2 separate regions of the Homo sapiens genome follow, and region 2 is linked to region 1. A link means that fine-mapping ties the variant in region 1 to the expression of a gene that starts in the linked region. Tissue or cell type: tibial nerve. Region 1 holds a variant in brackets; the other region holds the start of a gene. All regions are shown on one strand. Distances are from middle to middle.

Region 1 (2,684 bases):
GAGTGGACATGGCTGTGTCCACTTATTCACAAAAGTGGGCGGCTGTCTGGGTTTCGCCTATGGGCCAAATTGTGCTGACGCAGGAATAGAACACTGAGGTTGAGATGACTGGCCCCTTCATGCAGGTGGAGTTGTTTAAGAAGGAGCCCCAGCAACAGGTACTTCCAGTGTGTGGGATGCAGCGAGTCATGCGGTTTGGTTGGAGTTTCTATGTGAGAGAGAAATGTGGTGGGAGGGTTAGCCTGAGAGTCATTTTGAGCAGGCCCAGACCACATAGCTGACTTTCACCTTCATACGTGGATGAAGACTAAAGCAGACAAGGAGTTTACACCTTACGAAGTTGGCGGTTTGTGGGATGATTGAAAAGGGAGCAAGGAGACTGGTGGCAATTAGACGTGTCCAGATTCAAACCAAAGGGCTGGAAAAGAGGGTGGAACCAGACACATCCAGGAACTGATGAAGACTTGGAAACATGAGGTAATGGACATAGAGAGGGGAGAGTTAGACTAGGAAACATGAGGTAATGGGGATAGAGAGGAGAGTTAGACTTGGAAACGTGAGGTAATGGACATAGAGAGGGGAGAGTTAGATTAGGAAATGTGAGATAATGGGGATAGAGAGGAGAGTTACACTGGGAAACATGAGGTAATGAACATGGAGAGAGGAGAGTTAGACTTGGAAACAGGAGGTAATGGGCATAGAGAAGGGAGAGTTAGACTGAGAAACGTGAGGTGATGGGGATAGCGAGGAGGGTTAGACTGGGAAACATGAGGTAATGGGTATAGAGAGGAGAGTTAGACTGGGAAACGTGAGGTAATGGGCATGGAGAGAGGAGGGTTAGACTTGGAAACGTGAGGTAATGGGCATGGAGAGAGGAGGGTTAGACTGGGAAAGATGAGGTAATGAACATGGAGAGGGGAGAGTTAGACTGGGAAATGTGAGGTGACGAGCATGGAGAGAGGAGAGTTAGACTTGGAAACGTGAGGTAATGGGCATGGAGAGGGGAGAGTTAGACTTGGAAACTGGAGGTAATGGGCATAGAGAGGAGAGAGTTAGACTGGGAATGTGAGGTAATGGGGATAGAGAGGAGAGTTAGACTGGGAAACGTGAGGTAACAGGCATGGAGAGAGGAGAGTTAGAGGGGAAACGTGAGGTAACGGGCATGGAGAGAGGAGAGTTAGACTGGGATTGGGCATGATGTTGATTTGAGGAGGAGTTGCAAGTCCGGGCAGTACATTCATTTGCATCAAATGTGCTGCATCAGCTCAGAGCAGCTCCTTTAGAGAAGCTGGGTGGCAGTGAAGAGAAGGTGGAAGCCAGCCTGCCCGTGTGTGGGTGAGAGGTGGCCATGCTGGTGTCCGAGGCCTGTTCTGTGCCCCGCAGTGCTGTCCTTTTGTCTTTCCAATCCTCAGTCAAAGCGTTTCCTCGCAAACTGGCTGCTGAAAACAGAGTGGGACGGGAGCCGCACAC[A/G]TGAGCAGTGCTGATAGGTGCCTGGCCCATTGAAAGGCCGCGTGTGTGTTGAATGGATGGAGATGAGTGTCGCTTTCCCGAACGTCTCAGAGTTGATTGCAGCTGTAAGTTCTGATATGATAGGGTTTCTTAGGTTAGATAGATGGAGAGGAAAATCTACTATTTGTACATTTTCTCTGAACTTCCAGGACTTTCTATGCTAAAATGAAAGGTGAAATAGTTTTATAAGTAATCATTATTTCCTCAATTTTGGACATGTACTCTATTTTCAATAGCATTATGCAGTCTCAGAAAAGAGTTATTTAAGTAAAAAGTACATTCCTCTCACTAAGTGGTCACTAAGCTGGAAAGGTCTGACTGCTGCTGCTTAGCCATAGTGGCGGTGAAGAGCGCATTTTACCATGGTCTGTGCCTTGGGTAATTTTCCCCGATTTCTCTCTTCAGCTTCTGGAGATCAGACTGCTCATATCTGGAGATACGCGGTGCAGCTGCCGACACCCCAGCCTGTTGCTGACACTAGTGTAAGCACCTTTCCTTACCTGTGAATGTGTAGGATGCTGATGTCTGCGAATCTGAGAATCCATTTATGATATCTGTCATGGACGGAATGTTTGTGTCCCCCCAAGTTCAGTGTTGAAGGCCTCACCCCCGGTATGGTTGAATTTGGAGATTGGGCCTCTAAGGTAGTAGTTAAGGTTCAGTGAGGTTGCGTGAGGTCCTCATAAGAGGAGACAGTGGAGAGCTCACCTGTGTTCTCAATCTCTCTGTCACTCTCCGTGTCACGTAAGAGCAGAGCCAGAGGGCGGCCGTCTTTAAGGATGAGCCCGCACCAGAACCTGAATTGGCTTGATCTTGGACTTCCAGCCTCCAGCACTGTGAGAAAATAAATGTCTGTTTTTTATGCGTCGCCCGGTCTGCGGCCTTTTGTTGCGGCAGCCAGAGCCAACTGAGACAGATTTCAGTACCGCGCGCAGAGCGGGGGCTGCTGGAGAAATGCCGACGGTGTGGACCTGGCTTCGGGACCGGGAATGGGTACATGCTGCAGACGTTTTCAGGGACCTGCTGGAGAAAGCCTCCATAGCGGCGAAGAGCTTGTTGGTAGAAATACGGACATCAATGGGGACTCGGGTGAAGGCTCAGAGAGGAAAGGGGAGAGCTGGAGAGAAAGCTTCTAGCATCTCAGAGAATGCAGGTATCATAGACAGAATGTTGTG
Region 2 (2,684 bases), 39 kb before region 1:
ATACCTTGATTTGGGACTTCCAGTCAGACCTCTGACAATAAATTTGTTTAAGCTGCCTAGTTTGCAGTATTTTGTTCCTGCAGCCCTAGCACATCAACAGTGAAAAGAATATGGATTCTGATGCCAGCCTTTAGTCTTTGCCCTGCTGCACGATTATTTTTGACTTTTGACGAGTAATTTCCACATTCTCATGCTTAAAATTCAATTTAGAATAACTTTTACTTTATTGGATTCCTTTGGGGATTAAATTAGTTACAAAAGATGTAAAGCGACTGATCCTCAAAATGATTTCTTTCCCTTGTTTTGTGACATGTCATGCTCTCAGTTATTTTCAGTGACTTTTATGGAATCCTAAATATATCAACTTAAAAAATTACATTAGCGATATTCTTGGTGTTACCTGACTGTGGTGCGGTCCAGAAAAATAAAACCACCTGTTAGAATGCGGGTTAATTAGATGGGACACTGCGATTTACAAAGCTTTCTATTTGCTGCCATGCCCAGTACAATGTCTTTGCATACTAGGTACTAAATAAAATTATGTTACTTAAATGTCACAACCTCTAAAAGTTTAAAAAATGACTTCTCTAAAAACTCAAATATTTTTTTCCTTGGCGTTCCTCTTACAGAATTGTTTTTAGTGATAAAGTTTTATTAATATACTTAATGCAGAAATAACTTCACTTCTTTTTTTTTTTTGGTAATCTGGATCCCCTAAATAGAATGCTAAATTTGTTTCTTGTGCAACAAACAAGTTACCACTTCTGACTCTTCATCTTGAGCTTCCTTATTTTTTTTTGGAGACGGAGGCTCGCTCTGTCCCAGGCTGGAGTGCAGAGGCGCGATCTCGGCTCACTGCAACCTCCGCCTCCCGGGTTCAAGCGATTCTCCTGCCTCAGCCTTCCGAGTAGCAGGGGTTACAGGCGCGCGCCGCCACGCCCGGCTAGTTTTTGTATTTTTAGTAAAGACAGGGTTTCACCATGTTGGCCAGGCTGGTCTCGACCTCCTAATCTCGTGATACGTCGGCCTCGGCCTCCCAAAGTGTTGGGATTACAGGCGTGAGCCACCGCGCCTGGCCTTGAGCTTCCTTTTTAAAGGAAGGAGCAGGAATGTTAACCTACACAGAAAAAAAAAATGCTTTCACGCTCTTGATTTACTCTAGGTGGGCTTCAAATGCGCGGTTAGCGCTTTCTGTAGAGCGTTGAGACGGCTGTTTACGTAAAGACCATCATGCGACGTTTCCAACCTAGATTCTAAGAAAAAAGCGGCCCAAGTCCCACCTTTCGCAGGGAACAGCTGATTCTGTTTTTCCTTCCCAGCCAATGGTGATCAAAAGCTTCAGGACGCTGGTGAGTCACTGCGGAGGAGCCGAACACTGACCGCGCCGTCCCCGCCAGGCTCCCGCGCGGCCGGCACCGCGGCCCTGAGCGCAGGCGGCCCCGGGTCTCAGGCCTCAGGCGGACCGCGCCCCGGGCTCGCAGCCCTCCCGCCCCGGCTGCCGGGCTACGGGGCAGATGGACTCGGAGCGCCCCGCCGGTGAGTAGCTACGACCCCCGAGGCCACCTCCCGCGAACCGCTCGGCGGCAGGAGTACGTGACCAAGGGTGGGGGCGTTGGCCCAGCAGCCGAAGGGGTCTTCAGCGCGCCCAGACCCCTCGGGGCTGCGGGGCGGAAGCCGGGGCGTGACTTCCGGCGCCGCCGGGTGTGGGGCGGAGGTGTGGGGCGGCTTCCGGAGAACCCAGCGGCGCGGGACTGGGGCGGGACTTCCGGCGACACCGGAAGTGCATTAGCGCCAGGTTGGGGTTGTGGGGTCGCGTCAGTGCGGAGACAGCGGTGTCCTGCGCGTCTTCGGGTCAGTACGGGGGGCCGCGTCGTAGGGACTCACTGGCGGTGCGCGACCTGGGCTGGCTCCGGGGGTGGCGGGCGCAGCTGCTGTGACAGGTGAGTGCCGCCATCTTCCTACCTGTCAGGCGCCGAGTCGTTCCCCGGATGCCCCGAAGAGGAGTCGGGACACTGCAGGGCTCAAGGGGGTGCAGGGGCAGTCGGGGCATAGTGGCGGATGGGGTGCAGGTGGGCTTGGAATGCAGAGGGTCCGTGGTGGTGCAGGAGGGGTCGGGTCCCTGGAGGACCCGTGGCGGTGCAGGAAGGGCCGTGGTGCAGAAGGGTTCAGGGTGCAAGAGAAGTCGGGGCGCAGGAGTAGTCCGTGGCGGTGCCAGAGGGACCAGGGTGCGGGAGGGATGGGGGCCCGGGGCGGTGCAGAAGATGTCGGAGTCCAGGAAGAGTCGGGGCGCTGGAGGGGTTGGGGGCAGAAGGGTTCGGCCCGGGGTCTCTCCCCGCCCCCTTTGCTTCGGCCTGGGCATCCCGGGGAAGTGCGTCTCCAGGGAAGCACTTGGGAGGCCCTTCAGAGAGGAGAATGGCCTTTCTTCTCTCCAAAGAGTGGGGATGGTCGGCTTCAAGAAGGGTGGTGAGTGTGGAGTGACGGATGCTGAAGTGATTAACACAGCGCCATGATATTGTTCCCCTTTTGAAGACTTCCTTTTCCTTCCCTTCCCCCTGAAAGCAGCCACCGCTGGAGGGAAACATTTTAAGACAGCTGTTCACCGGAATAACACAAGAGCAACAATAATAATGTACTCATTTACTAAACCAAGTTGAATAAATACATTTTTCCAGGTTGTGAGTGAA

Which allele goes with the higher level. Positions count from the first base shown, and alleles are read on the strand shown. Sizes are in standard deviations (SD) of each study's normalised expression.
For the expression in tibial nerve of the gene that starts at base 1,357 in region 2, allele G in region 1 goes with a higher level than allele A (moderate effect, 0.44 SD a copy in GTEx).

The links. PIP is the estimated chance that this variant, and not a neighbour inherited with it, causes the effect.
Region 2: WDR37 starts here. The variant in region 1 is fine-mapped to the expression of WDR37 in tibial nerve (GTEx, PIP above 0.99). The same link has a PIP of 0.9 or more in pancreas, subcutaneous fat and whole blood.

What each region holds. Positions count from the first base shown.
Region 1 is chr10:1,094,256-1,096,939 of GRCh38, forward strand. It overlaps WDR37 (WD repeat domain 37), which reads left to right. Exons shown (of 14, transcript NM_014023.4): 9 at 1,915-1,991. Among named protein-coding and RNA genes, the nearest start is that of WDR37, 39 kb to the left of the region's middle. RefSeq lists an enhancer at 1,383-2,582. The variant A/G (reference allele first, on the strand shown) is at 1,471.
Region 2 is chr10:1,055,029-1,057,712 of GRCh38, forward strand. It overlaps WDR37 (WD repeat domain 37), which reads left to right and starts at 1,357. Exons shown (of 14, transcript NM_014023.4): 1 at 1,357-1,940. It also overlaps a transcript of IDI1 not described here. RefSeq lists silencers at 835-894, 1,325-1,754 and enhancers at 1,005-1,054, 1,855-1,914, 2,015-2,074.